Regions from separate parts of the Homo sapiens genome. Here region 1 is linked to region 2. The links come from fine-mapping of genetic effects on gene expression. A gene starts in region 2. The other region holds a variant in brackets. All regions are shown on one strand. Distances are from middle to middle.

Region 1 (15,315 bases), 31 kb after region 2:
ACCACACATGATCATCTAAAGGAAAAAAGCATTTGAAAAATCCCACACAGCTGGGTGCAGTGCAGTGACTCACCCCTGTAATCTCAGCACTTTGGGAGGCTGAGGCAGGATTGCTTGAGCCCTGGAGTTTAAGACCAGCCTGGGCAGCAAAGCAGGACCCTACCTCTACAGAAAAATTAAAAAATTAGCTGGGCATGGTGGCTCATGCCTGTAGTCTCACCTACTCAGGAGGATGAAGTAGGAGGATCCCCTGAGCCCAGGAATTCGAGGTTGCAGTGAGCCATGATCATGCCACTGCCCTCCAGCCTGGGTGACAGAACAAGACCCTATCTTTAAAAAAAAAATCAACACCCTTTCATGATAAAAAACACTCAACACACTATGAATATAAGAGAATTTCCTCAACTCGATAAAGGGAATCTACAGAAAACCTACAAGTAACATCATATTCAACAGTGAAAGACTAAAAGTTTTCCACCTAATATCAGGAACAAAAAAGTTTTCCACCTAAGATCAGGAACAAGATAAAGATGTTTGTTCTAGCCACTTTTTTTTTTTTTTTTTTTAAAGACAGGGTTCTTGCTCTGTCGTCCAGGCTGGAGTGGAGTGGCATGATCTTGGCTCACTGCAACCTCCGCCCCCCAGGTTCAAGCAATTCTCATGTCTCACCCTCTCAAGTAGCTGGGACTACAGGTGCACATCACCTCACCCAGCTAATTTTTGTATTTTTAGTAGAGATGGGGTTTCGCCGTGTTGGCCAGGCTGGTCTCAAACTGCTGATCTCAAGTGATCTGCCCACTTCCACCTCCCAAAGTGCTGGGAACACAGGTGTGAGCCACCACCCCCGGCCCGCTCTAGTCACTTTTATTCAACATTGTACTTGAAGTTCTAGCTAAGGCAGTTAAGCAAGAAAAAGAAATAAATGCCATGCAAACTAGAAACAAAGACTACAATTATCTCTATTCACATATATATTAATTGTATATATTGAATATATATGATTGTATATATCGAAAATCCTAAATAGTGCATAAAAAATCCTATTAGCACTAATAAACCAATTCAGCAATCAATACAGGATTAACATAAAAAAATCCACTGTATTTCTTTTTTTTTTTTTTTGAGATGAAGTCTCACTCTTGTTCCCCAAGCTGGAGTGCAATGGCGCGATCTCAGCTCACTGCAACCTCCGCCTCCCAGGTTCAAGCAATTCTCTTGCCTCAGCCTCCTGAGTAGATGGGATTACAGGCACCTGCCACCATGCCAGACTAATTTTTGTATTTTTAATAGAGGCTGGATTTCACCATGTTGGCCAGGCTGGTCTCGAACTCCTGACCACAGGTGATCCACCCGCCTTGGCCTCCCAAAGTGCTGGGATTACAGGCGTGAGCCACGGTGCCCAGCTTGTATTTCTATATACTAGCAACAAACAGCCTGAAAATGTAACTAAGGAAAACAACTCCAGCCGGGCACAGTGGCTCACATCTGTAATCCCAGCACTTTGGGAGGCCGAGGCAGGCAGATCACCTGAGGTCAAGAGTTCGAGACCATCCTGGCTACATGGTGAAACCCCATCTCTACTAAAAATACAAAAAATTAGCTGGGCGTGGTGGCAGGCACCTGTATTCCCAGCGACTCAGGAGGCTGAGGCAGAAGAATGGTGTGAACCCGGGAGGTGGAGCTTGCAGTGAGCCAAGATTGGGCCACTTCACTCCAGCCTGGGCAACAGAGCAAGACTCCATCTCAAAAAAAAAAATTAGCTGGGTGTGGTGGCAGGCACCTGTGATCCCAGCTACTTGGGAGGCTGAGCAGAAGAATTGCTTGAACCCGGGAGGCAGAGGTTGCAGTGAGCCAAGATTGTGCCATTGCACTCCAGCCTGGGTGACAGAGCAAGACTCTGTCTCAAAAAAAAAAGGAAAAGAAAAACAATTCCTTAGAGAAGCATCAAAAATAATACTTATTTAACCAAGAATGTGCAAGACTTGAACAGTACAAAATACTGTTGAAAGAAATTAAAGACGTAAATAAATGGACAGATCCTTCATTCATGAATTGGAAGACTTAATACTGTTTTTTTCTTCTGTTATTGTTGTTGTTTAAGATGGAGTCTCCCTCTGTTACCCAGGCTGGAGTGCAGTGGCATGATCTCAGCTCACTGCAACCTCCTCCTCCCAGGTTCAAGCGATTCTCCTGCCTCACCCTCTCGTGTAGCTGGGATTACAGGTGTGCACCACCTCCGACTAATTTGTTTTTTATTTTTAGTAGAGACGGGGTTTCACCACGTTGGCCAGGCTGGTCTTGAACTCCTGACCTCAAGTGATATGCCCGCCTCAGCCTCCCAAAGTACTGGGATTACAGGCGTCAGCCACCACACCCAGCCAGAAGGCTTAATATTGTAAAGATGACAATGTGCCCCAAACAGATCTACACATTCTATGCAATCCATATCAAAATTCAAACTGTCTTTTATGCAGAATTGGACAAGCCGATCCTAAAATTCATATGAAATTGCAAAGGATCCAGAAACAAAACAAACTTGAAAAAGAGGAGCAAATGGTGAATAACTACCACTTCCTGAGTTTAAAACTTATCACAAAGCTATAATAATCAGAACAGTGTGGTACTGGCACATATACACCAATGGAACAGGAGAGAGAGCTCAGAAATAAACCCTTACATATATTGCCAATTGATTTTGGACAAAAGTGCCAAGACCATTCAGTGGAGAAAAAGCAGTCTTTTAAACAAATGGTGCTGGGAAAACTGGAAATCCACATGCAAAAGAATAAAGTGGACCCTCACCTAATAACATATACAAAAATTAACTCAAAATGGATCAAAGACCTAAATTTAACAGCTAAAACTACAGAACTCTTAGAAGAAAACATAGGTGAAAATCCTCATAACTATGGATGAGGTGGTTTCTTAAACCTGATGACAAAAACATAGGCAATAAAGAAACAATAAATTGCACTGCATCAAAATTTAAAATGTTTGTGCATCAAAGGACACTATATCAAGTGAAAAGACAACCCAAACAATGGGAGCAAATATCTGCAAACTATATACTTCATAAGGGATGATATCCAGAATATATAAAGAAATCCTGGGCCGGGTGTGGTGGCTCATGCCTGTAATCCCAGCACTTTGGGAAACCAAGGCGGGATCACCTGAGGTCAAGAGTTCGAGACCAGCCTGGCCAACATGGTGAAACCCTGCCTCTACTAAAAATATAAAAATTAGCTGGGCACCACGTGGTGACAGGCGCCTGTAATCCCAGCTACTTGGGAGGCTGAGGCAGGAGAATCCCTTGAACCCAGGAGGTGGAGGTCATGCCATTGTACTCTAGCCTGGGCAACAACAGTGAAACTCCATCTTAAAAAAAAAAAAAAGGTCCAACGCAAATCCAAGAGAACTTATCAGTCCTGAATGGTGGCAAGGTGGACGTCTGTAAGATGCTCCGGAAGCTTTCAGATCAGGCCTGATGCCGACATGGCAAGCAGCACTGGGTGGAGCAGGGGACGGAACGAGGGCTGGGGGCAACCGGAGCCCTCTGAGCCTTGAAGCCCTGGACCACTCAGTTCTTCTACTCCTGTTTCCTCCTCTGTCAGATGGTGTGACTGCAGGGCCTACCTACAGGGCTGTTGCACAGATGAATGAAAGTATATGAAACCCTTGGAGCAGTGCCTGGCCCAGAGGGAGCACCACAGGGATGTGTCAGATCTCTCATCAAAGGGATCAGGAATTCGAGACCTGGGTAATATGGTGAAATCCCGTCTCTACAAAAAATACAAAAATTAGCTGGGCGTGGCAGTGCACACTTGTAGTATCAGCTATTAGGGAGGCTGAGGTGGGAGGATGGCTTGGGCCAGGGAGGCGGAGATTGCAGTGAGCCGAGATTGTGCCACTGCACTCCAGCCTGGGTGACAGAGCAGCAAGACGCTGTTTCAAAAAAAAAAAAAAAAGGAAGACATTCAAAGAACTAGAACTAGAACTAGGGATGGTTACACGGTCAGCCTGAACTATTGGCTAAAAAAGAAAATTACCTACTAGAAGGCTTGGTAAATATTTCTTCTAAGAGAAAAGTAAAAAGGAGGAAAAATAAAGCTATGCGCTTAGGGAAATAGAGACATTACAGTAATAATTGTTCATATTTGAATATGGAAGAGGTATTACCATTAAATGTGTTACCTATTATGACACAGAAGTTACTCTTTTTTGTCCTCACATCGGACTTGGACTTCCAAAAAGTTACTTTTTAAGTAATTTCCTAATCAGTTAGATTAGAGATGCAACTATGAAGTATTCATAATTGGAAAAAACCAGTAACTTCTGGAATTTGCTTTAAAATGGCCCAGGAAAGAAAAAAATAGGGCAGGGAGAACAGACAAAATGAGACTGGGAAAATATTAATAAATGACGACATTGGATGATGGACCGTGGGCGGTGATTATGCTAAACTCTCTAATTTGGGGTATGTTTGAAAATCTCCATGAAAGTAAAATTTAAAAGTTGAACTCTAGAGAATAAAACTAACAACAGGGCCAGGCGCAGTGGCTCACGCCTGTGATCCCAGCACTTTGGGAGGCCAAGGTGGGTGGATCACGAGGTCAGGAGTTCAAGACCAGCCTGGCCAAGATGGTGAATCTCCGACTCTACTAAAAATACAAAAAATTAGCCCAGTGTGGTGGCGGGCGCCTGTAATGCCAGCTACTCTGGACGCTGAGGTAGAGAATTACTTCAACCCGGGAGACAGAGGTTGCGGTAAGCTGAGATTGCGCCACTACACTCCAGCCTGGGTGAGGAGAGTGAAACTCTGTCTCCAAAAAAAAAAGGCCAGGCGCGGTGGCTCACGCTTGTCATCCCAGCACTTTGGGAGGCCAAGGTGGGCGGATCACGAGGTCAGGAGATTGAGACCATCCTGGCTAACATGGTGAAACCCCGTCTCTACTAAAAATACAGAAAATTAGCCAGACATGGTGGCGGGCGCCTGTAGTCCCAGCTACTCGGGAGGCTGAGGCAGGAGAATGGCGTGAACCCGGGAGGCGGAGCTTGCAGTGAGCCGAGATCACGCCACTGCACTCCAGCCTGGGCAACAGAACAAGACTCCATCTCAAAAAAAAGATAAAAAATTATAGTAATATAAAAATTAGCTGGGTGTAGTAGCGTGAGTCTGTAGCCCAGCTCCTAGGGGGGCTGAGGCAGGAGGATCGGTTGAGCCCAGGAGGTCCAGGCTGCAGTGAGCCAGGACTATGCCACTGCACTCCAGCCTGGTTGACAAAGTAAGACCCTGTCTCAAAAAAAATTAAAACAACCACCAAAAAAAAACTGACGATAGGCTGGAGACCTACTCTCTTCCACATAAGCCTTGCACTGCTGCTCGGGCTGCAGTACAGTGGCTGCATCTCCACTCACTGCAAACTCGGCCTCCTGGGTTCAACCAATTCTCCTGCCTCAGCCTCCTGAGTAGCCAGGACCACAGGTGCGCGCCACCACGACCGGTTCATTTTTGTGTTTTTAAGGAGATGGGGTTTCACCATGTTGACCAGCGTGGTCTTGAACTCCTGACCTCAGGTGATCTGCCCGCCTCGGCTTCCTAAAGTGCTGGGATTACAGGCGTGAGCCACCGCGCCTGGCCTCCTTCCATGCTTCTTGATTCACCCCAGAAGGAAGACGTAGACGCCTGAACACAGACACAGCTGTCAAAGCACGCCTGCCCCAGGAAGCTGAGACAAAACTGCAAAGCAAAGGGAGGGCCGATCCTGACCCGACCCTGTGTGCGTGCCCCTTACGCCCCTAAGGTTGGCATCTGACAACAAAGGGCTTTACCTGCAGTTCTCCTTAAAGCGGCACTTTCCCTCCAGGAAGAACGGGCACGGCTTCAGAGACTTGTGAGTGGGGTACAGGTAAAGCACACGGACACCCGCCGAGCCATCCTCCGCCTCTTCCGTTCCCACCACCATGGCGTTGTGATACTCCAGAGTGCCCCAGGAGCTGTAGTAGGGCGCGCTCACCTTTGTCCCACTCAGCTCTTCCTCGTCCTCTCCCTCTTCCTCCTCCTGCCCACCTGCCGCAGATTCTGGCCCCGCCTCTGCTTTAGGAACGGTCTCTGATCCGGACCCACGGGCCGCTGCTGGTGCCTCCACCGCCTCAGTGATGGCCTCCCGGAAAGCCTGGTACTCAGCATCTTCCTGGCGGCCCGGGCGCTCTTCGTCCAGCGCGGCCAACAAGCTGCTCTTCCTGACAGACACCAGGCTGGCCTCGGTGAGCTCGATGAGCTCCTTCAGGTCCCCCTGCAGCTGGCGCAGGTCAGCCTGCTCAGACGAATCCAGGCCGGCGCCCAAGGCCAGCTCCACCTGCTGCAGCTGCGCACGGTAGGTCTGCAAGGCCGACTCCAGGCTCTCCTCGTCCATGCTGAGAGAGGGAGGCGCTGGACCAGGGCTGCAAGAAGAGAAGCCAGCTGAGCCCCGCGTCTCGGGACCGACCCCACAGCCTGAGGGCGGGCACGGGCACGGGCACGTCCCCTTTCCCTCGGGGAGACACCGGCTCAGAGGCACAGCTCCCAGCGCAGAGGTCGCAGCCCGGGTACCCCCGCTCAGGCTCCGCGCTTCCCTTCCGAGCCGCCGTGGGCTCGCCGCTAGCCGGGTCCCGCGTCACTCCGGAGCCCCTTCCCCGCGGGGCGCCCCGCCGCCTCACCCTCCGCCGAGCCCACCCGCCGCGCCCGCCGCCTTCCAGGCCGGCCGCGCCCCCCCGCCCGGCGTCTCTTCTGTCTGGCCAGGGCCGCGTCCCCGCAAACCGCGGCCACCTGGTCCCCGGCCGGGCACCTCCTCCGCGCGGTTTCCCAGCCGCAGCCACAGAGAGCCCGCCGGCCTCACCGGCTAGAGCGGCCCGGCGCCCCCTTTTCGCCCCAGCAGCCGATCGGCACTTCCTCCCGAGCGCCGCCGCTTCCGGAAGTGCTTGGCGCGCGGGGGCAGCCGGGAAGCGGAGCGCGGAGGCCGCTGGGACGCGGTTCAGCTCATTCCCTGAGGCCGGCCCGCGTCCCGTCAGGCGCCGCGCGGGGTTAGCGCGGGGTCAGCGGAGGTCAGCGGGGGTCAGCAGCAGCGGCTCCGAGGGCGCGGCGGACGCAGGTAGGCCGCAGGCTGTGCGGTGAGGCGCGAGGCCCGAGGGGCGGCCCAGGACTCGAGGTGGGACGCGGGTGTGACAGGAGCCAGCTTTGGCTGCTTGTCGGGGAGCCTCAGACCTGGCGGCGGCGGCTTGGGGCGGACGTAGCCGGGGGCCGCGACCCAGGTTCTTCCTTCGCAGTCGTTCCCTGCCAGCCGCGCGCCGCCTCCAGGTGCACTCCAGGAGCAGCCGCGCCGCTGCTCACCCGCCCTGTAGTCCGCTCCCCCCAGGGCCGTCCCCGTTTTAAGAAATGGGGTGATGGGGCGTCCCTACCCGGCGCCTGCAGGGGCTCCTGGGGAGCGCGCCGGTGGCTCGCTGCTCCCGGGTGGGGCGCGGGGCTGGCGCTCGAGGGTGCCGTGGCCCAGGCGGGGCTGCAGCGAGTGTGTTCCCCGTTCCGCGCGCGTGAAGCGTGGGAGCGAAGCCTCGGGGGAGGGCGGGAGCGCGGCTGAGCTCACTGTGAACACCCGGCTGGGTAGTCCCGCGAGCAGGGGAGGGGCCGGAACCGATGTGTATGCGGAGAGGTCGCAGTCATTGCTGTGAGCAGGACACAGTGGCGGCTGACCTGGGAGAAGTTACAGAGGGACGGGGTGGGAGAGGGACGAGGAGTCGGGAATGGCCCCCAGGCTCTCGTCCTGAGCGGTCGGCTGGACGTGGGGCGCCACTGACCACCGTGGAGAAGCCCGGGGGAGGGGAGGTGCTTTCTGGCTGCACACTGACCTATGTTGGGGTGCCCAGGGCAGGATGTACACGCTGCTGTCGGGCTTGTACAAGTACATGTTTCAGAAGGACGAGTACTGCATCCTGATCCTGGGCCTGGACAATGCTGGGAAGACGGTGAGTGCCCACGCCCTTGCGCGCACCTTTCCCACGGCCTGGCGGCGCCCCCTTCGGTTTTGTGCTGTCAGCTGCACGTTCACTACCCAGACGGAAGCCAAATTTCACCTGAGACGGCAGGATAGTCACCACCAGCCTCCTGAAGAGCAGAGTGTTGCTCTGTTTCTGTTTCTGTCTTTTAAAGAACAGACCTGAGTAAGGATATTTGGAAGCCAGTATAGCCCCTCCTTGATGTGTTTCGCCTCTGCCTCTCTCCTCAGACCTTCCTGGAGCAGTCGAAAACCCGATTTAACAAGAACTACAAGGGGATGAGTCTATCCAAAATCACCACCACCGTGGGCCTAAACAGTAAGGGTCTCAATAGCAGGCTGTGGGTTTGGGGCCTTGAGGATGCCGTGATATTCACAGTCCAGCTGGCCCGTGGCCACAGCCCTGTCGGGCCCCTCTCAAGTCTCATTTGAGTGGCACCAGCATGGTTTGCCCCATCCCCTGGGAGAGCTGGGACTGGGTGTGTCGAGGACCAAGGTCATGAGCCTTGCCTGTTTCCTCCTCTCCCCAGTCGGCACTGTGGATGTGGGAAAGGCTCGGCTCATGTTCTGGGACTTAGGAGGGCAGGAAGAGCTGCAGTCTTTGTGGGACAAGGTAAGACTCCCTGGCCAGGACCACCCCCACCCCAGCCCTCCAGTGCCACTTCTTTCCAGAGTGCCCTTTGGGCCCTTCCTCAGCAGTTTTCCTTACCCACTCTGTCCCTCGGGTTTTCTCTCTGGTCCTGTCCCAGGTTCCCGAGTGGCTCCCTGTTTTGTCCCAGCTGAACCCTTAGCTGAAGTTGCCCCAAAAGTGGTGGTAGGGGAGTTTCCCACTTGGGAGTTCCCTGCGATGGGGCCAGTGGAGAATTCCAGGGAAAGAATCACTAAATGCCAAGGCGATCAGATCAGAGCATGTATTAGGGGAACCTGTTGACAGAGTGCGGCATCCTCAGGTGACCAGTGAGAGAAGGGCGTGTTCACTGGTCATGCCTGAAGCCGGGGGGGATCTGGGTTCAGGGCTGGGGCTAGTTTCTTTCAATGTTTTGAAACCTGAACATTATGTTAACAACCTAAACATCTTACAAGTGTCTGGGAATGTTCAAACCCTGGCTTGGGTTTGAGCCTAAGGGCAACCTCGCTGGCCAAGTCAGAGAGGTCAGGGCAGTCTGTTTCTTTCTCAGTCAGGACAAGACAAAGTGTGGGGACCTGGGGACCCTGCACTCCTCCAAAGTGAGTGCCTCCTTTCGGCTCAGAGACCTTGCTGCTGACCACCACAGGACACAGAAATGGCAAAGACCAGATGTGGGGACGGCAGGATGGCTGCCTCTCCCCTGATGAGGTTCCTTCAGTTCTAGCTTAACATTTGTTCTTCCATGATCACCAGAAGACTCCTCAGGGTCTCACAGCGGCAGTCTCCTATTTTGACACAGGTTTTGGGCATTTCTGAGATCCCAGTGTGGTGCCCCTTCCCCACACCCCCAAGGCTGCAGTTTATCTCCTTCTCAGCCTGGGCCAGGCACTGAGTCCAGCACTGAGCAGGGCAGAGCCTGTGGCTTCCTCGGGCTCCCTGCCCTAGGCTGGCACAGTGGGTGTGGGGTGTCCCCAGTGCCTTGGCTGCCCTGATGCCATCTCTAGAGCTGAGTGCCCAGGTCCTGATCTCTTTTTTGATCCTAGTTCCCCTTTCCTAGGCGCCCCCAAAGTGTCCCCTCCTGCTGTGACTTCTAGCCAAGAAGACATTTCTCCCATGGCCAAGTGATCTCTGATAGATCCTGTAGGACCACTGAAGTCAGACAGGACAAGTTGAGTCAGGGCCTGTGTGTCCAGTGCGCAGCATGCTTGGGGAGTGACACAGATGATGATGATCTTGTCACAGGCCGGTGTCTCAGGCACAGATGCTGAGACAGGTCGAGGTACAGGATGCACACTGGGGGTCGGCACCAGGAAGGCAGGGAGGACGGGAGAGGAGAGGTCGACTCAGGCAGCAGGATCCACAGAGCTGTGGTTGGCCCAGCAGGGAGCCCTGGAGGAGAACTGGCTATGCTGTGCCATGTGGGGCCAGGCTGGCCGGGACTTCACACCATGGCCTGGTGGGTCCCCAGTGTGGGCTGCCCTGGGCAGGTGTGACCTGGCAGTGTGGCTCTTTGCAGCCAAAGTGGGTCCCACAGAAACCAAAATGAGACCATCTGCTGGTGCAGTGTTCTCCAACATGAAGCAAGAATACAGTGGGGCCAGAGATGCCTGCACTGGCCACAGCTGCAGCCCTATGTGGACCCACACTTCCACGTTGGAGAGGGGTTCCTCCAAGGTCCTGAGGGCCTCTCTTAAGGCGAAACTGGAAGAGGGAGACTTAAGGGGGCCACTGTAGCCCATCCTTGCTGCTGGTCTTGGGGCTGCACAGCCCTTCCTTGAGTGCCCTCCCAATTCACTACCACTTCTGCTGGGGTGCGACTTCCTGGCAGTCTGAGCCCTTCTCCAGACACCACCGTGGTGGGGCCAGTGGCTCCCTGGGTCCCCAGCTGTGGGACAGCTGTGGGATGGCAGCCCCATCTCCTGCCCACCAGGGTCTCCTAGACATGAGGTGCAAGTCATGCCCATGAGGCAGCTGTGGCTCGTCATTCAGCGTGTCTGCTGAGTATGTGCTGCTCTAGTGGCCGGGACCCCTGACCCTGCTGAGCTCAGAGCTGGGAGGATCAGCTGCAGGGACCCCCCTAGGTCACTGGGAGGGACCGGAAGGGAGGCCCCTGCTCCCACCCTGGTTTCCTGTATCCTGCATCCTTGTGCAGAGCCAGCACCACAGAAAGGGGCGTCATTGCGAATTGGCCTCGTCCTGGGGCTGGACCCTGGGTTGGTGTCCACATGTGTGGCATGTGCCAGGACCTCAGCTCCTGGGTTCTTTGCTGTAACACTAGTCTCTCAGGCTGGCTGGCACTTTGCAGTTGGGGAGCTCCCATTGCTGCTGGGGAGAAAAACTCAGACCCACAGTCCCTCTGACTGCTCCACTGGGGTCAGCTGGCCAGCCAGGAGCCACGCTTGGACACCTCCCTCTTCCCCCTCCTTGTGGGGCACCCCACAATGACCACTGCTGTGACGCCTCCACTGGGGCGTGGGGCTCTGGGTCCTGCCCGCACTCAGCCCTGAGGTGTCGCTCCCGTCCACTGCGGCCCTGCTGGGCTGTGCACCTTGTGCCTGGTAGGTGTGATGGGTGGCTCTGGCCACGTGGTCCCATGGTCCAGGACCCGGTTGCACATGAACCTTCTGCCACCCTGCTCAGAAGCCCCAGGAGCCACGTGGAGATTCTCTCACTGGGCTTGCTGCAGCCTCCACAGAGCCGCCCCTCCTGCCACAGAGGTCTCCACCTTAGGGTCCGCCTGCTCCCTTGTGTCAGCAGCAGACAGCCGGCACACTGCAGGGTCCCTTGAGGGGTTGGCGGCCTCTGTGTGGGACCTGTCTGTAGGCCAGAGAAGTTCCTGGGGGTGGGGGGGCCTCGCTACCTGCAGAACCCTGGAGGGCGCCTGGCCTTGGGCCTCCTCTCCACTGTGGGAAGTTCCTGGGGGTGGGGGGGCCTGGCCTTGGGCCTCCTCCTTTCCACTGTGGGAAGTGCAGGTGCACAGGCTTCTCTCCTCTGTGGGAAGTGCAGGTGCACAAGCTTGTCTGGCACTGGGATGGGGTTGTCTGGTACTCCCTGCTCAGACACCCTAAGGATTTCGGAGAGTTG[G/C]GCTGTGCCTCCTGGCTTCTCATGCTCTCGGGTGTGTGTGTCTTAACACACTGACCACCAGCTTGTCCTACCTGGTCAGCATCCAGTTCTAGGTCTCTGGGCACTCATGCCTGGACAGGAGAGCTGGCACAGCCTGGAGGCAAAGTGGCAAATGTGAGCTGTTGTCTGCTCCACGTGGACGCGGAGTTTGCTGTGTTTTTTTCTGATTGAGATAGAGGTGCACTCATCTGGTCCAGGGCTCAGCACTTGTACCTGAGGCTGCAGGGGCTGTGCCCTGTCTTGCCCAGGAGTGTTGCCAGCGAGCCCAGGACTGACCAGCCCAGGCTGCAGAGGTCTGAGCTCAGTGACTCTGGCCCTGTCCTGGCAGGGAAGGCTCGCTTCGTAGATGGCGCTGGTCAGTCTTATCCGCATGGCCACACTCCCTCCCTGTGCGAGGTGCTGGCACAGAGCCCCACAGGTGCACTCCCTCAACGGGCCAGGCTGTGGTCTAGGTTCCTCCAGCCCCCAAACCCTATCTTTTTTTTGAGACAGGGTCTCTCATTCTCACCCAGGCTGGAGTGCAGTGGTGTGATCAGAGCTCACTACAGCCTCAACCTCCCAGGCTCAAGCCATCCTCCCACCTCAGCCTCCCGAGTAGCTAGGACTGCAGGCGCACATTACCATAAGCTTTTGTACAGACGGAGTCTCACTGTGTTGCCCAGGTTGGCCGTGAAGTGGGCTCAGGTGATCCTCCTGCTTCTGCCTCCCAAAGTGTTGGGATAATAAGTGTGAGCCACCACGCCTGGCCCAATCCCTGTCTTTCACCTTTGGCCACCATCAGGCCAAAGGTTGCCGGCAGGTTCTCAGGAGCAGCGTCTGGGGACACCTCCACCAGATCTCCCCGCAACCCCAGAATGCATCCCAGAAGGGTCTTGCAGTTGGGGGCTGCCCTCTTGCCCCTTCCTCATGTGAGCCCCTCACTGTGGCCATGACACAGGCCTGGCTCTGCTGGCCCTTGGCAGGGTGGGGACTGAGCCCCAACTCCTGGTGCTTCCTCCCAGTATTATGCGGAGTGTCACGGCGTCATCTACGTCATTGACTCCACCGACGAGGAGAGGCTGGCTGAGTCCAAGCAGGCGTTTGGTGAGTGCGGCCTGGCTGCTCTGGGAGGGATGGATGGTGAGTGGGGGCAGGTCCAGCTTGGGCAGCTCTGTGCCTGGGGCAGGCTCAGTGTCTGGTCAGAAGTGCTCCTGCCTAGTGGGTGACGGGGGGGGGGGGGGCAGAGGGAGTGGCTGTCACAGTGTCCACGCCTGTGGGCCCCTGGGCAGTCAGAGGCAGGATGCTGGGTGTGAGGCGCTGCCTCTCCTGCCCTCCCCAGAGAAGGTGGTGACCAGCGAGGCGCTGTGCGGTGTCCCCGTCTTGGTGCTGGCCAACAAGCAGGATGTGGAGGTGAGCCCCACCCCTGCCTCCCGCAGCAGCTTCCCGAGTCCCCAGCCTCCCCCACAGCAAGGGGAGCAGGTGTGCACCCAGACACCCCAGGCCCAGTGACTGCCCAGGGGGTACAGAGCCATTCTCAAGGCCTGCCCTGCCCCCAGCAGCTTCCCAAGCCTGGTTCCTCTCCAGACCTGCTGCTGCCAGCCCTGGAGGTTCTCCCACCTCAGGGCAGGCGCCCAGAGGCCTCTTCCTGCTATGCAGGGCACCTCTCCCCAGGAGGGCGGCCGTGTCTCAGGAGTGTGTGGCCAAGCTGTGGGGACACCCAGGTGAAACTCAGAGCTCAAAGAAGTGATGCTGGGGCCCTGGTGGGAGTCAGCTCTGACCCTTACCTGTTCCTGCTACCCTTGGAGGTGGCATCTGTGCCAGCCCCACCCCCAGGGCAGCCCCTCAAGACCCCTCTGAGGTGCCACTGCCCCCGGGAGCACTGGCCACGCTGAGTTCTAGCTGTTCTCTTGGAGTGGCTTTGCACAGAAGCAGCCCGGCGTCCAGAGGGCCAGGTGAATCTTCACTTCCTGCCTTCTCTGGGGTGGCTCTGTTGCCCCCAGCCTGTAAGGCTGGCCTCCCCTACAATCTCAGCCGACAAGAGGGACATCTGGTACGGGGCAGGGGTCTCCCCTCGGAGGAAAAGGGGAGGGGAGGGCTGCTTTTTGAAGACTGGGCAGGTGGTTGTGAGCAGAAGCCACCATGACTGCAGACTGCCTCCATCACTGATGCAGGGCTCCCACCTCTCCATCATCCCCGGCTGTGTGGGCCCCTGGGACCTGCCTCCGCCACTGCCCAGGAGGCCTCAGTCCTCAGCGCCCCACCTCGGGGCTCAGGGTGTCCCCCAGGGAGGGGATGGGGGGTGGACTCCTTGGAGCCGTGTGGACGTCTAGTTTGTCTCAGGCACTACCAGCCATGTTCAGCCTCGGGCTGAGCACAGGGTCCTCACTGCTGTGGTCTCTGTGGGAGACACTGGGACCCTGGTGGAGCTCTGGCTGTTTCCCTGGGGTGAAGGGCATACGCCCTTCTGAGAGTCCCGGGCCCACAGGCAGGACAGGGCCAGACGTGGGGGCTGCTCCTCACGGCCTTACCTCCCCCAGACGTGCCTCTCAATCCCTGACATCAAGACGGCCTTCAGCGACTGCACCAGCAAGATCGGCAGGCGAGATTGCCTGACCCAGGCCTGCTCGGCCCTCACAGGGTGAGTGGGGGCTGCACCTGCGGGGGCTTTGGGGACCGAGACCCCCCGCCTCACACCCGCTGTCTTCACAGCAAAGGGGTGCGCGAGGGCATCGAGTGGATGGTGAAGTGTGTCGTGCGGAATGTGCACCGGCCGCCGCGGCAGAGGGACATCACGTAGGCGCAGCCGCGCTGCCGTCGGGACGGCTGGTCCCCTGGTGCTGGAGGAGTGGCCTCCTGTTGGCTCCCATGCTGCTGATCTGGGGGGTGGGTTTGCTTTGCTTTGGGGTTCTTCTATTTACTTTGTTTTCTCGAAGACAAACTTTCCTCTATGTCTGGAAAAGCGTAGGCATCCGGAGGCTTTGGAGGGGAGTCTGGCAGCCCGGCTGGCCCAGGCCCTGCAGCGGCAGCCTTTCCACAGGGCGCAGCGGCGGCCTTTCGAGGCCCTTTCTGGGGGGTCTGAGGGAGACCTGGTTGGGAATTGGGGCTCCAGTGCTCAGGCTGGCTTGGGCTGCATGAGGACAGCCCTGTGGGACCCTCGGGAGACCCCGTGGCTGTCTCCGCCCCATCGAGGAGGAGGCCCGTCAGCCATGGCTGCCATCTGGCTTCTGCCCTGTGACCCCGTGACCCCGTGACCCCGGAAGTGGTCTGGGGCTGATCTTGCCTTGAGGAAGACCCAGGCCATGTTCCCAAAGGCCAGCGGGGGCCCTGGATTGTGATGCAGCCTCGGGACAGGGCTGAGGCCTGCGGGGGAAGACCTATACCCCACGCCTGGGCCTGGCTTCACCTCACCCTAATCCCCCGGGAGGGAGCTGACTGATGCAAAAAGCTGAGGGGGCCTGCTGGGAGTGGCTGTTTTTATGCCCCAGCCCCGCAAGTTGGGGAGTGTTTGTGGGGGTCCAGAGCCCTCCCCCAGCCAGGAGAGAACCTCCCGGAGGGGTTCTC
Region 2 (15,315 bases):
CCTCTGGCACAGGCCACCACTGCGGTGCTGTGCCTTCAGATGGGAGGTGGGCGCGGTGGCCTCCTCCTTCCCTCCAGGACCTGCCCGTGTGAAGACCCCCCGGAGTGCTGAGCTTCAGGGCTGCGTGGAAAGAGTTTTTACTCTCTTTTTCTAGCCTGTATACCAGGCTTTTCCCCACATTGTCAGGTAGAGCACCAGCTTCCCTGACCGCTGCTGCTCGGGGAGGGCTGGGGCTGGCCGGGGGTCCTGTGGAGGAGTACATGGAGGACTCCAGGTACAGCGCAGGAGTCACGGCTTTTGTTTTTTGACATTGGCCCCCGGTTCTACCAATGACAGGGTGCCCTGGCTGGAGCTGTCATCACACACACCCCTCAGCTCGGAGGCTGTGGGCTCCTCAAAGCTGGAGAAAGAGGCCAAGATTTTTCTGCACACGGAGTGTGGGGATAGGAGCCGGGCCAAGCGCTGGCCCCTCAGCGGTGAGCCCTGCCCACTCTTACCGAGCAAGGTGGGTGGCTCTGGCACGAGTCCCCCAGGGGGAGAGCATGGCTACCAGGGAGCTGCAGCGGAGCCCTCCAGCCCTCACCCCAGGCCAGCCCCACCCCGGCCTCTTTGAGAATTCTCAGAACTTTGTACCTTTCCCCTGATTTTTAAACCCTTTTTCTAAACAGACTGACTTTCTTACAAAATGCATTTGGAAACCAGACCTTTGCTACCCACCAATGTCTCTGGGTTTTGTACCAGTCCCTGCTCTCAGGCCACCCTGCCCAGGACCCAGGCCCGCCTCCCCCTCCACACTCAGGATGTCCTGCTCCATCTGGCCGGCTCACTCCGTGTGGCCTGCCTTTGCTGACCGTTTTGGGGTTCCCCGCCGGAGCTACAGGGGCATTTTCTTCCCTAAAACCAACAGTGTCCCACTGACCTCCCCAAGTGTTTGCTGCGTGGCAGATTTCCTGTTCTTGTTCGCAGTTTGCCGACTGAAGAGTGTGGGATTTCCGAGGCCCAGGTGAGCACGTCCATCTCAGGAGGCGTGGAGGGAAAAGACATGTCATGAAGGGTTTTTTTTATGTGACTGATTTTTTTTTAAATCGATGTTCAAACTAATAAATATTTTTTTATGAAGAGGAAAAATGTGTAGATTACATTTCACATTTTGTATTTTTGTTTGTGTCTGTTTGTATTTTGGTGTTTACAACACCAAAGTGGGAAATACAGTCCATTGGGGATGGTGTTATTTGGGGGCGGGGAGGGGGCAGGGACACCACGATTTTTCTGTCAAGCTCTGGATCCTGACCAGGTTGTACACTGGGGCTCTCTGAGCTTTGGGACACAGGACACTGCCAGGGCTACGTAGGGAACTGACTCAGAAGACGCAGCTTACTGCTTCCAACTTTGCACATCTTCCTCTTTAAAAAACTGAGAAAATGCAAAAACTGGAACTTTTTGCAATATTATAAAAGAAGTAATCTTATTTTAGCTCATTCTGTGACATGTGCGACTCTTAAGAAAGCCATACTTAATGGTGGTGGTTTTTTTTAGATCTTATATTGTGTTTTGTATGCAGCCCTTTTAGAACTACTTGTAGTGAGGGTGCTGTGTGTGCTTTTCTTAAATATTTATTTTTTTCAACATGCTTTCAACCTGTCAACAAAAACAAAACACACAAAAAAAGGGCAGTGTTTGAAGATTGTTGATTTTTTTCTGGGGATAATCTATATTATATTGACTTCCTATTACTTATTATAAACCTGTGTTTGTATTGGAGATGTGTCTACTATTGGGGGAAGAGGTTCTCGTAATCGCTCGGTGGGAAATCATGGCTCTGCCGTCCTGCCTCTCTGTGGCCGTGGGTTCACGTGGCCTCTGCGGTGAGTCTCCAAGTTTCTGCCTAGGCGCCTGTGCGTTTCCTTTCTGTGACGGGATTAGCTTAGACATCCTTGCAAAGCGATCACTTTCAATAAATTGGGAAATTGCTGCTCCAGCAGATGCCTCCTGCGTCTCAGATGATCCTTCCTCCGGCCTCGCCTGGGGTGGCGGCGGCCGACGGGTGACCCTCGGCCCTCTGTGGGCAGCTGCCAGACTCCACCCACTTGCCCACCACAGGGTCCCAGCCCCACGGCCTTCCTCCCGAGAGGCAGACAAAGCTTCTGGAAAAACCTCAAATCTTTAATTTCTCTCTTCGCCTGGTGCAGCCCAGACGTGAGACACCTGAGCTTCAAAAACAAACATGGTAAAAACAGCCCCAGGGCCCGAGAGCCGTTGAGTTAAGTGCGAGTGGGGGAGTCCCCTCTCCAACACCCCTCAAAGTGCATCGGGACTGGCCCCCCAAAGCTGGGCCCATAACACCCTTGATAAATCTACGGGCCGACAGGCGGGAGGGTGGCTGCCCCCAGGGCCCTTGGGGCTAAGGGGACAGCGGTGTGGTTTGGCTTTAGTGCAAAAAGCTGGTTTCTTTAGAGGCACTTTGAGTGGTGGGACCCCTCCCCGACCTGGCGGGGGGGAGGGTTCAGGGTCAGCCCCGCCCCCCCACCCCAAGTAAAAGCAGACCCTGCAGCTGGTGAAAGCCAGCCCCTGGGGCTGTCCTCGGGCTGTTTCAGCCCCGGGCCTGGAGGGGGTGGGGAGGGAGAAGGTGGTAGCTTATGTTCTTGAACGAGCCGGACTTAGTCCAGGAACCGCTGGCAGGCTTTCTTCCAGCGGCAGGCTGTGCACCAGAGGTCCCGGCGCTCCATGCCATACACCTTCCGGCACTTCTTCGCGTCGCCGCGGGGCTTCCTGTGCGGGGGGTCACAGGACATGGGGTGCTGTGAGACCAGGACCCTCCCCACCTGGTGCCAGCCGCAGGCCCTCAGCCCACACGCACCTCAGGGTGACTCCGATCCTGGAGGACAAGGCGGGTGGGCAGGCTCCGACCTCCGTGGGCTGCGGCTCCAGGCGGGCGGGCGTCAGGCAGCCCTACAGGGAGACACAGCCAGGGCTTCACTCCCCTCCAGAGAGCCCTGAGACCCGCCCCAGCTGCCACCCGTGGCCTCACCCACCTGGTAGACACGGTCACTGTGACAGGACTGGGGGTTAGCAACGGTGCTCAGGACAGGGGGCGGGGGCAGGGGCGGGGCAGGCGGCCGCAGGGGACTAGGCAGGGCTGGGGGCTCCAGCAGCTCTGGCAGCTCCAGGCGGGGGAAGGCAGGCGGCATGGAGGCCGTGGGGGACACTGGAGTCAGGCTGGACAGCCCGTCGGTCAGCGTGTCCACACCAACATCCAGCTCTGTGTAGTAGAAGTCCTCCTCACCATCACTCTGCTCAGGCTCTGCCTGCCTCCTGCGGGAGACACAGCCAGCCAGTGGGAGCTGAAGGGGTGGCCTGGCCGGGCCTCACAACCCCAGCCAACCCGCAGGCCCCGCCGCACCCCAGGCCCCGCCGCACCCCAGGTGCACCAGGCGGATGTGTCTCTGCATCGCCGACGCCGTGCTCAGCACCTTCCCGCAGCTCTTCCACAGACACTGGAACATGACCTGGGCCGGGCTCTGCAGCAACAGGGGCCAGGGTCAGGCTCAGCCGCCACACCCGCCCCTCCCTGGGGGCCGCCCCCAAGCTCACCTTCCTTTTTCTCAGGGTGGGCTCCCCAAACAGAAAGTGGGCTGCCTCGGGGGGCAGTGGGGGTGACGGGGTGGACGGAGAGGACTGGTCACTGGCCAGGTCCCATCCCCAGTCTCCACTGTTGCTGCTGCTGCTGTAGCTGCCTGGGGGCCGCACCAGGGCCTCCTTCCAGGGCTCCAGGCCAGGCTCTGTGGGGACACGGGCCCCCCGCCTTAGAACTTCGGGTGGGTCCAGGGAGTCCCTAATCCTGAGCTGCCCCTGTTCACCAAGTCCGGTGAGACTGGTGGGCAGAGCGTCTTGGAGGAGCTGGCCCCAGGGCTTGGGGAGAAACCCCCCCGGCACAGGAAAGGGTTGGCAGACGTGTGTGGCCAGCCGCGTGGAGGTGAGCAGGTCAGGGAGGCCAGAAGGCCTGGGTCCTGCCGCTTTGGCCTCAGTAGGGGGCACTGAGGGTGCGGGAGTCCATTTTAGAAAGGAGTCCCAGGTTTGAGGGCTCTGCTTGCCCCACAGAGGCTGGGTGGCTGTAGGTTCTGAGCCCTGTCCCCACCCACACCCCTAAATGCAGACATCTGAGTCTTACCTGGGCTGAAGGCTGCAACCGGGGCCCCCAGAAGGAGAGGGCTGGTGGACAGGCTTGTAAGGGCAGCGGCAGCCATGACCTCGTCCAGCCGGGCTTTTCCTGGGGTGGCTCTGGAGGAGATGGGGGCGGGGTGCGGGTGACCCAGCCAGAGCTCTGGGCCCCTCCCCTGGTCGGTCCACGTGCAGGCCTGGGCACGCGTGCACACCAGGCTCCCCACTCCCAGCCCTGGGCATGAGGCCTGGCTCCTCCCCCAGCTCAGGTTGCAGAGAGAGCTGAAAGCCACCCGGAGCCGCCAGGAGCAGGGCCAGGGTCTCCTGAAGCCTGAGTTCTCCACATCGCGGGCTTGGCTCCACTGTGGTTCCTTCAGATACTGGGGCTGGGCAGGGGTCTGAAGCCCTGGCAGAGGGGCGGGCCAGGCCCAGGCCTCCCCCCATCACACATTAACCAGGGTTGTGCAACAGCAGCTGTGGGCCTCACGCCAGGCCTGGGAGGTGGGAGTGGCCAGCAGCCGGCAGCAGCCAGGGGGAGACTGGGCTGGAAGCACGGGCAGCTCCCCAGGCCCCAGCGAGCCAGGCCAGGGCCCGCCCCTGCCCTGGCAGCCAGACCGAGGTGTCCGGCCTGGCAGGGGTTGGGAGGTGGCGGTCAGGAGCCCCAGGGATTCCTGGACAGTCGCCCCATGCCGACCGCGCAGCCTCTTCTGCACAGAGACGCACAGCCACCCGCTCCGGGTTCTGAGCTCTAGCCCCGAGGAACTGCGGTGGAGGGAGGTGTAGGGACTCCCAGTCATCGATCATTTCTGCTCAGCTCCTCCAGGGCTGAAGAGCTTGGGGGTGGCTGGTAATTACAAACCTGGGGCCCTGACCTGGCCTCCGTCGGGGCCGGTGTCTCCGCACCCCACCCACCGCCCCTGCGCACACCGAGTCCCGAGGCACCGGGCCTCCCGCTCACCTCTGCGCTGGGACGGGGATGTGCGCCGACGGAGTCCGGGGCCCCGCCGCCGCCCCCGTCCACGTCCGGGGGGCCCCCAGGTCCGAGGCCCGCGGCTCCGACTCCTGCGGCCGCGCGAACTCCAAGCCCGCGAAGCCGCCGCCCACGGAAGAGCCCTGCGGATGGGGAGGGGGCAGACTCAGCGGAGGCGGTGGCCGGGGGAGGGGGGTCCCTCAACCTCCGCCGCGGATCCGCTCGGCGCCCGCCTCGAAAACCGGCTGCGGCCGGTGTGGACGGCGCGGCCCCGCCCCCGGCCCCGCCCCCAGCCCGGCGCGGCGGGAAGGGCTCCCCGGCCGCCCGGCGCAGCCCCGGCGGGACCCACGGACACGCGCGGACCGACGCGGCCGCCCTCCCCGCTGCCCCGCCCCCGGGGGCCCGAAGTTTGGGCAGCACTGACGCCATCTTTGCAGCGAGAGAAACTTGGTCGGCGCCCCCGCCCACCGGCGCCCGGTACCTGCGGCGGCGTGGGCACCGTCACGGGCGCGGCGCGCGGCCCCGGACCCTCCGCGCGCAGCCACGGCGCCTCGGCCCGCAGCGCACTGGGGTCCCGGCCGGCGGCGCGGGGCGGGGGGCGCTCCATGGCCGGCCGGCCGGGCGCCGAGGCTGCAGCGGCGAGGGCTGACTCTCAGGACGCGGCCCCGGGCCGGGCCGGGCTGGCCGGGCCGCCGACCCCCGCCCTGGATCCGGCCGCCGCCCGCGCCGCGCCGCCCGGAGGCTGCCCGGCCCGCCCCGCCCCGCCCCGTCTCGTCCCGCCCCGCCCCGCCCCGTCCCGTCCCGTCCCGGCGCGCGCATTGGCCGCGCGGCGTCCACACCGCAGGCGGGCGGGCCCGGCCGGCCGCGCTCCCGCCGGCCAGCGCTTCGAGGCCCCGCCCCGGGCCCGCCCCCTCCGGGTCGCTCCCGCGCTGGCCTAGGGAGGGAGGCCCGGCCCGGCACAGCTCCGAGGCCTCCGCCCACCTCGCGCGCCCGCGCGCCCCGCCGGGGAGGGCCCGTTCCCCACGGGCGCGCTCGCAGAGCTGCCAGAGCCGGGGAAGGGGCCGCGATTGCTTGGCGGGCTTCCCGGCAGCAGGTTACTCTTTAACGCTCGACTGCCCACCTCCACCACCCCTTATGTAACACCAGGCTGGGTGGCGGAGCCCTCCCGTGGAGTCCAGGGTCCAAGTCCCACCCGGGGGCGGCCACCCTGCCGGCTGCGCTGCCCCCTAGGAGTGGCTGGGACCCCGTGCCCGCACTGACCGAGAGTCTGGCCGGCAGGAGCACCGCCTCGGCTAGGCCCGGGCGCCCCGGGGGCAGCCAGTCCCCCAAGGCCAGAGGGGACAGCTCCAAGCCTTCCAGAGAAGCCCCCCGCCCCAACCCGCCCAGCTTTCAAGAAGAGCAGGCTGCGAGGCTGGCCGCTTTCATCCTGCGCTGGCGCTTTATTTAGACGCGGGCCTTCTCTGGAGCCCGGGGAGGCCGCGGCTGTCAGAGCGGCCAGGACCTCACGGACCTCACGGGCTGGCAGCCCGGGGACCTGGGACTGGCGCTGTCAGCTGTGAGGCGGGGCGGGGCGGGGGACGGGCCTCACTCTGGAGGAAGGAGCACAGGTCCTTGAGTGTTCAGGGCAGGGAGGCAGGGAGGGGTCTCCAGCCCCTCCCTAGGCTGGGGCAGCTGGAAGCAGGGGGCGTCCCAGCCCCGCACGTGCTGCTCCTGCCAGCAGGGTCCCCCAGCTCCCGGATGCTCTCATACACGTTTTCCAGGGGGCCGCTGTCCACATCCAGGGCCCTGAGCGGGAGGGTCTGGTAGGCCAGGTCACCCGCCAGGGCCAGAATCGCTCCCTGGCCCTTGGGGTCCAGCGGGTCTGTGGTGGGTCCTGGGTCCCTCCTTTTAGGCTTGCAGACCCTGGAGTACAGGACGTCCACCTGGAGACAGGAAGCCAACCCGAGGAGGGGTCAGCACCATCCAACCTGCTGAGGATCTGCCGGCCCCACCCACAGCGCCCTACCCTGGCCCACGTTACCTGAGCGGCCGGGGTCACCTCAGTCTTCCCCTGCTGTGGCTCTTGGGGACTGCGATGGGTCCCTTTGCGCTTCTGGACGCGGGCATACTCGGCCACCACAGGGCTGGCCGCCAGGCTGACCCCGGGAAGGGCCGCCAGCCCCACGTTGGAATAGGTGGCCTCGAGGCCAGCGCACCCTGCGGTGGCTGCAGCTGCCGGCAGAGCCCGGGGCAGCTCCTGGTGTGGGAAGGCAGAGGGGGCTGCCTGCGGTCCGGTGATGTCCCTGGACACCTCCAGCCAGTGTGGGCGCAGGAGATCCATGCTGGCAGGCCGCAGGGCTGGGGGTGGGGTCAGGGCAGAGTTCACTCCGGGCAGGGGGCAGGAGCGGGTCTGGCCCAGGGGTTGGCACGCGCTGCACAGTAAGCCCCGCCCGGCCGCCCCCGCCCCGCCCTCTGCTCACCCCTGCTGCTGCGCGGGCCCCGGTGCAGCTCGTGCAGTCTGGTGTCCGACTTGCTGAGGGAGCAGAGGTGGGTCCGCCTCAGTAGGGACTGGGGGCGAGGAAGGCTGGTCGGTGCCCTGCGGACCCCACCCTGGTCCCCGGGACAGCCTGGCACTCACCGCTTCCGCCGCCGTCGCACTGCCCTGCAGCCTCGCCCGCTGCCTCCGCGCCCTCTTCCTGGGGGCTACAGCGTCCTCGGGCCTTGGGGGTAGAGGTGGGGGGCGGGGGGCGGGGTCGTCAGCCTCGGGTCCAAGGCCCGGTGCAGGCGCGCGTGCCGAGCTGGGTGCGCGGACCTGCCTCCAGCCCCTTCCCGCGCTGGGCTGTGAATGGCAGCCGCAGCGAGGCCCCAGACAGAACGCGGCTGAGGGACCTACCTGCGGCAGGCTGTGCACAGCGCCCACAGCGAGAGGAGCAGGGCGCAGCACCCTAGAACCCAGAGGGCAGGAGGGGCCCAGGACACTGGCAGCCCCATCCTGTGAAGCCGAGGCCCTGGGGACAGAAGAAAGGGGCGCTGGGGGCTGGCCAAGGGGACCTGGCGCCACCTGGCAGCCCCAAATCTGCACCTCCCGCGGCTGCGGGGCTCCTGCGTCTCCCGTTCCAGCTCTGACTCAGCACAGGAAGCCCCAAGGCCTGGCAGTCCCTCCCTCCCAGAGGTGCCCACCTTCTGGCGGGGGCTCCCGGTGAGGTGAACTAGGGCTGCTCTGCCTGGCCCCTCCGTGTCCCTGCGGGTGACCACGGTAACACCCAGCACGGCCGTGAGGAGGGGCAAGACAGCTGTGGCCACCATAGCCCAGATAGTAACCAGCATCGGGGGAGCCCCTGGGTGTGCGCCACAGGCCACAGACTCCACCTGCAGCCACCCTCTGCCCAGACATGGTCTCCTGTGTCAGGTAGTGCCCCCAAGCCGCTCGCTGCGGAGCCCAGAACTGGGAAGAGCTGGAGGCTGGTCAGCAGGAGGGACCCTGCACCCGGAGGAGCTGGAGGCTGGGTCAGCAGGCAGCAGCAGCTGCTGGGGGTGCTGATGCCCCCACCCCACTTCTCTCTGGCTCTTCTTGTCTGCCAGTGTCTCTGCCAGAGAGGATCTGTCCCCTTCTTGGGGATCTTAGCAGAACTTCTCGGGGTGGGGGATGCCTTACAAACAGCACAGTCCAGCAGCAGAGACAGAAGCTGGGGGGTGAGGGGTGGTCTCTGGAGTTTGGGGCCAGTCTGCTCAGACCCAGGGAGTGGGCTTCAGCCTGGCTGACTGACCCAGCTGCAGCCACATCCCAAGGCCTCCCAGACCCCAGCTGCCCCCCAGGAGGGCACTTACCAAGCCCACGGCCAGGGGTCCTCAGCTCTGTCTGGGGCAGGCCAGGAAGGTCTTTGTGCAGCCCTCGGCTGAGCTCCCCACCTCATCACTTCCTGCTCCTGTCGCCAAGCGCCTCCCCTGAGCCTCCCACCCTGGGCAGCAGCCACCACCGCAGCCTCACCCACCTGCTGCGCCCCGCCCGAAGCCTAGATGAAACGTGTGCGCCTCTAGCCCGCACTGTTCTGACAGCCTAACTCACAACCCCTCCACACACGAAGACGTGAGCAGAGCTGGCACAGAACCCCCAAACCCACAGGGCCAGGTCCGCCTGCCTCACCAAGAGTGCCCCACGTGGTGGGCCACAGTCCTCTCCCGCCCGTCTCGCCCGCTGGAGCAGCACTGAGCTCCACCCATCTGTGGGTGTCAGGCAGCCTGGCGGGCACCCTGGCCTCCGATCTGCCTTGGTCAGAGAAGGGTAAGAAGGGAGAATGCCGGCCTCCTAGGCCCCTCCAGCCCAGCCCGTCTCTCACCACAGCCCTGCACAGACCCTTCTCTCCCCAGAGACCCTGCAGCCAGCTGATCTCCACTGAATGACACTGTGATGAAATCACTTTAATGTCCTTGCCAAGGAAATGCCCAAGACACTGGCAGGTGGGCAAGTAAGTGTCCAGATGGGACCCCGCAGCTCTGTCTCCACTCAGCAGTGTCTGCACGCCCCAGGCCAGCAGGCCGGCCCCTCCTCGGGCAACACTGGTCTTCCTGAGGGCAGCCCGTGCTGGGGTCCCACGCTTCGTCCATAGTGCTTGTGGGGTCTCTAGAACTCAGTCATCTTCTTGTGGGTGTCTGCCTTCCTCTGCTCCTGCTGCAGGCCGGCTTCCTGAGCCCGGAGCTGCCCCAGCTGGCGCTGGGCTCCTGCCAGCTTCTCCTGCAGCTGGGCTGACGCCACGCTATGCCTGCGGAGGGGCTCACTAGTCAGCGTGGGGTCCTGGGCCATGCCACCAACCCCAGTCTGCCGTACCCACTGCCTGTGTGCCCGCTGCCCGTCCTCCAACATGCAGACCCCTCCTGGACTCAGCCCGCTATGCTTGGGTCAGGTGACCTCCAGCATGTATCCCGGGGGCAGGGCCACCCTGGGTCGCCCTTTGCCCTGAGCTGGGCCCCACACGTACCGGCCAGCGTTGCGGGCGAGAGCCTCCTGGATGCTCCTGATGTCCCGCTGGGTTCGCTCGATCTTCTCCTCAGTCTGGAAGAGCCGCAGGCTCAGGGCCCGCTTGGCACTCTTGCTGGCATGGTACATGTCCTTGCTCCTCCTCCCCGCTGGGGCCGCCCCGGCTTCTAGGGCCCCAGGAGCCTGACCTTGCAGCTTTTCATTGAGGAAGTCAAACACATTCCGAGGAGCTGGGCGGCCCCCAGGCCTGGCCCCTCTTCCCCGGCACCTGGGGGGCTTGTTGGTGCCAGCCTTGCCAACCCTGGTCTGCTTCTGCAGGGTCTCCACACACTGGTCCAGCGACTTCCCTCGAGGCAACACCACAGCATGGATGGGCTCCACCCGGCCTTCCGCGTGTCGGCCCAAACCTGCGGAGGCACGGGGATGGCAGTGCTGTGGCTGCGGGACCCCGGGAATCTGAGGAGCACGGGGATGGCAGTGCTGTGGCCACGGGACCCCGGGAATCTGAGGAGCACGGAGATGGCAGTGCTGTGGCCGTAGGACCCTGGGAATCTGAGGAGCACGGGGATGGCAGTGCTGTGGCCGCGGGACCCCGGGAATCTGAGGAGCACGGGGATGGCAGTGCTGTGGCTGCGGGACCCTGGGAACCCGATGGCTGCGGGACCCCGGGAACCTGATGGCTGCTGGACCTGGGCTATGCTGCAGCAGCCTGCCCACTTCTCCAGGGCAGCTTGTACTCACCCTTGCCAAACTCATAGCCCATCTTGGTGAGGAGTCTGGAGCCTATACCTCGCGTGTGCACCTCCCAGCCAGCAAAGGCAGAGCTGCAGGTCCCAGAGTCCACAGCATCTGACCCCACCACTGCAAGAGACGGACAGAGGGCAGAGGACTGTGCAGAGTCCACGGCGTCCGACCCCACCACTGCAAGAGATGGACAGAGGGCAGTGGCCCAGCCAGGCCAGAGGATTGTGCATGGTGACCCGGGCTTTGACCAATGAGCTCAGATCCTGGGCAGAGCCACGACACCCCACCTCTTGGGCTCCGTGCTCTCGTCACCGAGGCTGCTGTGGGCATGTGACACCAGGCAGAGTGCATGGCAGTCCCCACGGCCTGCTGCACCGTGGCCCCTCCTCCGCAGCCCTCTCCTGCCCCTGCCCTTCTCCACCTTCGCGAGGCTGTGAGCGCCTCACCTGCCCTCACAGAGTCCTTGGTTCAGTCCTCCTTCACCAGGGACATGGGGCTTCAGAAACCACCATCACTGATCCCTGGGTACACCTCCAACATGCAGACCCCTCCTGGACTCAGCCCGCCATGCTTGGGTCAGGTGACCTCCCACATATATACACACACACGCACACGCATACACACACCCCTCTGGAGAGCTGGACACTGCCCACCAGTTCCCATTCCCGAAACTTCCATGCTGGCTGTCTGGACACAACCTCTGTCTGCCAGGATCCCAGGCACCCAGGTCCCAAGTCTGAGAAGCCATGCAGAGGAGCTGCCCCTCCTGCACTCCAGGCCCCATCAGTTGGTCATTTTCTGTGACTTCCTCGGCAACTCCAGGCCCCTCCTCTCCCATGGCCACAGCCACGACCATGGCCTCCCATCAATGAGACTGTAGCTGTTGCACCCACACTCCTTGAAGATAAAGGCCGCCACGGATCTACCCCTACCCACACGGCCTCCTCAGGCACAGGTGGCACCCTCGCCGCAGTCACACACTCTCCAATAGTTTGGTTAGATGGTTGGTGCCCTCACCGGCCAGGAGCCTCTCAGGGTGACCCCACCTTCCTGGCTCCTGGGCTCCGCAGCTGCTGCCATACCTCTGGCATAGCTGGAGTCACCCGTACCGTCGCTGTCTGAGTCGGACTCTGTGGCCTCTGTGCGCAGTGGGGGCAGGATGCCGTCCCCCTCCACCACGGCCTCCCTCAGCAGCAGCGAGTCAAACTTGACTGTGTAGTAGCCGTTGTCCACATCTGGGGGCAGAGACAAGCTGCAGGTCAGAATCCTTGACAGCAGGTGCCACTGAAGGGAACCACCCTGGACATGAGGAGCAAGGCAGGGCAGAGGCTGAGGGTAGGTGTGCTCATTTCGGGCCCAGAGCCAGAGTCCCGACACTCAACCCAAAGGAAGCAGGGAGCAGCCACACAGTGACAACACACGTGGGGCCTGGGAGGGTGTTCCCGGGAGGCCCCCACGGCCAGCCTCACCGGTGATGCGTGCTGCGTGCCAGAGGCCATCCTGGTGCTTGGCCAGACACGCAGAGCCGGCCTGCAGGGAGCTCAGGTCTGGGTCCTGGAAGGGGCGCAGCTCATCCAGAGAGACCACCTGCCCATGGGAGAACCTGCAGACAGAGCCGTAAGGGGCAGGGCTCAGACATGGGCCACCAGGGGCAAACCAACCCAGGAGCACTGACCCATCCGCCTGGGCACTGTCCTGAGGGAGACAGACACACACGCGTGCGTATACATACACACTCTCACACACTCACGCACACACATACACACGCACACATACACACACACATGCACACACTCACGCACACATACACACATGCACATATACACACGCACATACAGATACACATGCACACATACACTCACACATACACATATATACACACTTGTGCATATACATGCAGGCATATACACACACATGCATATACACACGTACACATACACGCATACGCACACGCGCATATACACATGTACACACACATGCACTCACACAGGCACACACAAGTACACATACACACGCATAAACATGCACTCACATGCATACACACACGCATATACATACGTACACAGGCATACACACACATATACAGACATACACATATACACATACACAAGTACACATGTATACACATGCATACACACATGCACACAGGCATATACACATGTACACACACATTAACACATGTACTCACACGTCATACACATACACAGAGACCCTGACACGCGTATAAACATGCACTCACACATGAACTCATGCAAATACAGATGCAGTCATACATGGATATACGCACACGCCATCTCACCCACACGCGCGCACACGTGCCCTCACCCACACACATACGCCCTCACCCACACACATGCGCACACAAGCACCCTTACCTACACACATGCGCACACATCTCTCACCCACACACACGCACACACAGGCCCTCACCCACACACATGCGCGCACACACACCCTGACACATGCACACACACACCTCACCCACACACGTGCACACACATGCCCCCTCACCCACACACATGCACACACACACGCCCTCACCCACACACATGCGACCTCTCATCCACACACACGTGCACGCACACATGCACCCGCACCCAAACATGCACACACAGATGCACCCGCACCCACACATGCACACACATATGCAGTCACCCACACGCGCACACACATGCACCCTCACGTGTAGACTGTCACGTGCACTCACTCATATATGCATATACACATACATGCACACACATGGCATGCATATACACACATGCATATACACACTCACACTTGCATACACACGTAGTCTCTTGGTATCCATGGGAAACCCCCTGTGCAAACCAAAATCCAAGGATGCTCAAGTCCCTTATATATAATGACATAGTGTTTGCATATAACCTACGCACATCTTCCCACGTACTTTAAATCATCCCTAGATTACTTGCAGTACCTAATACGATGTAAATGCTATGTAAATAGTTGTTATACAGTGTACAGACGCAGCCATCCTTTTCTTCCCCAATTATTTTCAACTCGAGATTGGTTGAAATGATGGATATGGAACCTGCAGATACCAAGGGCCAACTGTACACTTTACACACGTATGCACACACAATCTCACACACACAAAGGGCCAACTGTACTTTACACACATATGCACACACAATCACACACAGGGCCAACTGTACACTTTACACACATATGCACAATCACACACACACCAAGGGCCAACTGTACACTTTACACATGTATGCACATGCACACATACACACACCAAGGGCCAACTGTACACTTTACACACGTATGCACACAATCACACACACACCAAGGGCCAATTGTACACTTTACACACGTATGCACATGCACACATACACACCAAGGACCAACTGTACACTTTACACACGTATGCACATGCACACATACACACACACCAAGGGCCAACTGTACACTTTACACACGTATGCACATACACAATCTCACACACACAAGGGCCAACTGTACACTTTACACATGTATGCACATGCACACACACACACAGTCTCACACACATCACACACACAGACACCCGCATTCTCTCTCGGGATGGACTTGGCTGCTCCAGAATATGCCCCGTGTGTCCCATCGCCTCTGCTGGAGTCACAGTGTGGCAGCAGCCTTCTGACAGCAGCTCCCACAGCCTCACTACTGCACAGGCCACAGCACCAGTGCATCAAGGCAGATGTGCTGGGGGTGTGTATGTGCATGACTGAGTCCTCCCCCAAACTAGGAGAACCTGCTTATGAAATAGTGATGCCTTGACTTTTAGGCATCAGTGAACCAGTAAAATTAAAACCAAAACCGAGACACACACACACACACACACAGAGAGAGAGAGAGAGAGAGAGAGAGAGAGAGAGAGAGAGAGAGAGAGAATGAAGAGGAAATGTGGGGACAGACAGAACTGCAATCTTCAACTTTGCCAAATAAAGACATGAAAAACCAACCGCCATCCACTGCTGCCATGCCATCGTTTCAAAAAGGAAGTTCTTTCAACCCCACAAAAGCAACTGAGGGGCCAGGTGCAGCGGCTCACGCCTGTAATCCCAGCACTTTGGGAGGCCGAGACGGGTGGATCACGAGGTCAGGAGTTCGAGACTAGCTTGGCCAACATGGAGAAACCCGTCTCTACTAAAAATACAAAAATTAGCCGGGTGTGGTGGCGCGTGCCTATAGTCCCACCTACTCGGGAGGCTGAGGCACAAGAATCGCTTGAACCCGGGAGGCGGAGGTTGCAGTGAGCAGAGATTGTGTCACTGCACTCCAGCCTGGAAGACAGAGTGAGACTGTCTCAAAAAAACAAAAAAGGAGCAACTGAGGACAGGCCTTCAGCCCGTGACATGGAGCCAAGGCTGTCTTTCCAGTAGGAACGGGTGGGTGGAGCAGAGTGAGGTGGAACAGGGATTTTGTCTCATGCGTAGACAAAGGTGGCCTCGTACACCTCCCCAGGCCAGGATTTTGGGCG

Evidence for each region. PIP is the estimated chance that this variant, and not a neighbour inherited with it, causes the effect.
Region 1: its variant is fine-mapped to the expression of LIME1 in whole blood (TOPMed, PIP above 0.99).

The regions. Positions count from the first base shown.
Region 1 is chr20:63,699,679-63,714,993 of GRCh38, reverse strand. It overlaps ARFRP1 (ARF related protein 1), which reads left to right and starts at 7,018. Exons shown (of 8, transcript NM_001267547.3): 1 at 7,018-7,127; 2 at 7,897-7,995; 3 at 8,256-8,343; 4 at 8,555-8,637; 5 at 12,777-12,858; 6 at 13,094-13,164; 7 at 14,292-14,392; 8 at 14,464-15,315. The coding sequence starts at 7,903. The coding sequence ends at 14,551. It overlaps ZGPAT (zinc finger CCCH-type and G-patch domain containing), which reads right to left and starts at 6,955. Exons shown (of 7, transcript NM_181485.3): 1 at 6,876-6,955; 2 at 5,830-6,441. The coding sequence starts at 6,413. RefSeq lists silencers at 6,683-6,842, 6,883-6,942, 7,363-7,602, 7,693-7,742 and enhancers at 6,070-7,030, 7,893-7,952, 14,573-15,315. The variant G/C (reference allele first, on the strand shown) is at 11,737.
Region 2 is chr20:63,730,333-63,745,647 of GRCh38, reverse strand. It overlaps LIME1 (Lck interacting transmembrane adaptor 1), which reads right to left and starts at 8,984. Exons shown (of 6, transcript NM_017806.4): 1 at 8,936-8,984; 2 at 8,001-8,115; 3 at 7,746-7,827; 4 at 7,588-7,675; 5 at 7,149-7,465; 6 at 6,545-7,050. The coding sequence starts at 8,098. The coding sequence ends at 6,748. It overlaps ZGPAT (zinc finger CCCH-type and G-patch domain containing), which reads right to left. Exons shown (of 7, transcript NM_181485.3): 3 at 12,296-12,429; 4 at 11,909-12,061; 5 at 10,824-10,943; 6 at 10,084-10,489; 7 at 9,506-9,867. The coding sequence ends at 9,729. SLC2A4RG (SLC2A4 regulator) reads right to left here and starts at 5,872. Exons shown (of 8, transcript NM_020062.4): 1 at 5,610-5,872; 2 at 5,117-5,271; 3 at 4,169-4,278; 4 at 3,592-3,779; 5 at 3,418-3,518; 6 at 3,033-3,312; 7 at 2,858-2,949; 8 at 1,598-2,769. The coding sequence starts at 5,735. The coding sequence ends at 2,658. ZBTB46 (zinc finger and BTB domain containing 46) reads left to right here. Exons shown (of 5, transcript NM_001369741.1): 5 at 1-1,978. It also overlaps ZBTB46-AS2. RefSeq lists silencers at 4,755-5,454, 5,465-5,614, 5,865-6,364, 7,369-7,428, 7,509-7,658 and 1 more and enhancers at 7,089-7,683, 7,883-8,799, 9,379-9,558, 12,756-13,298, 13,299-13,842.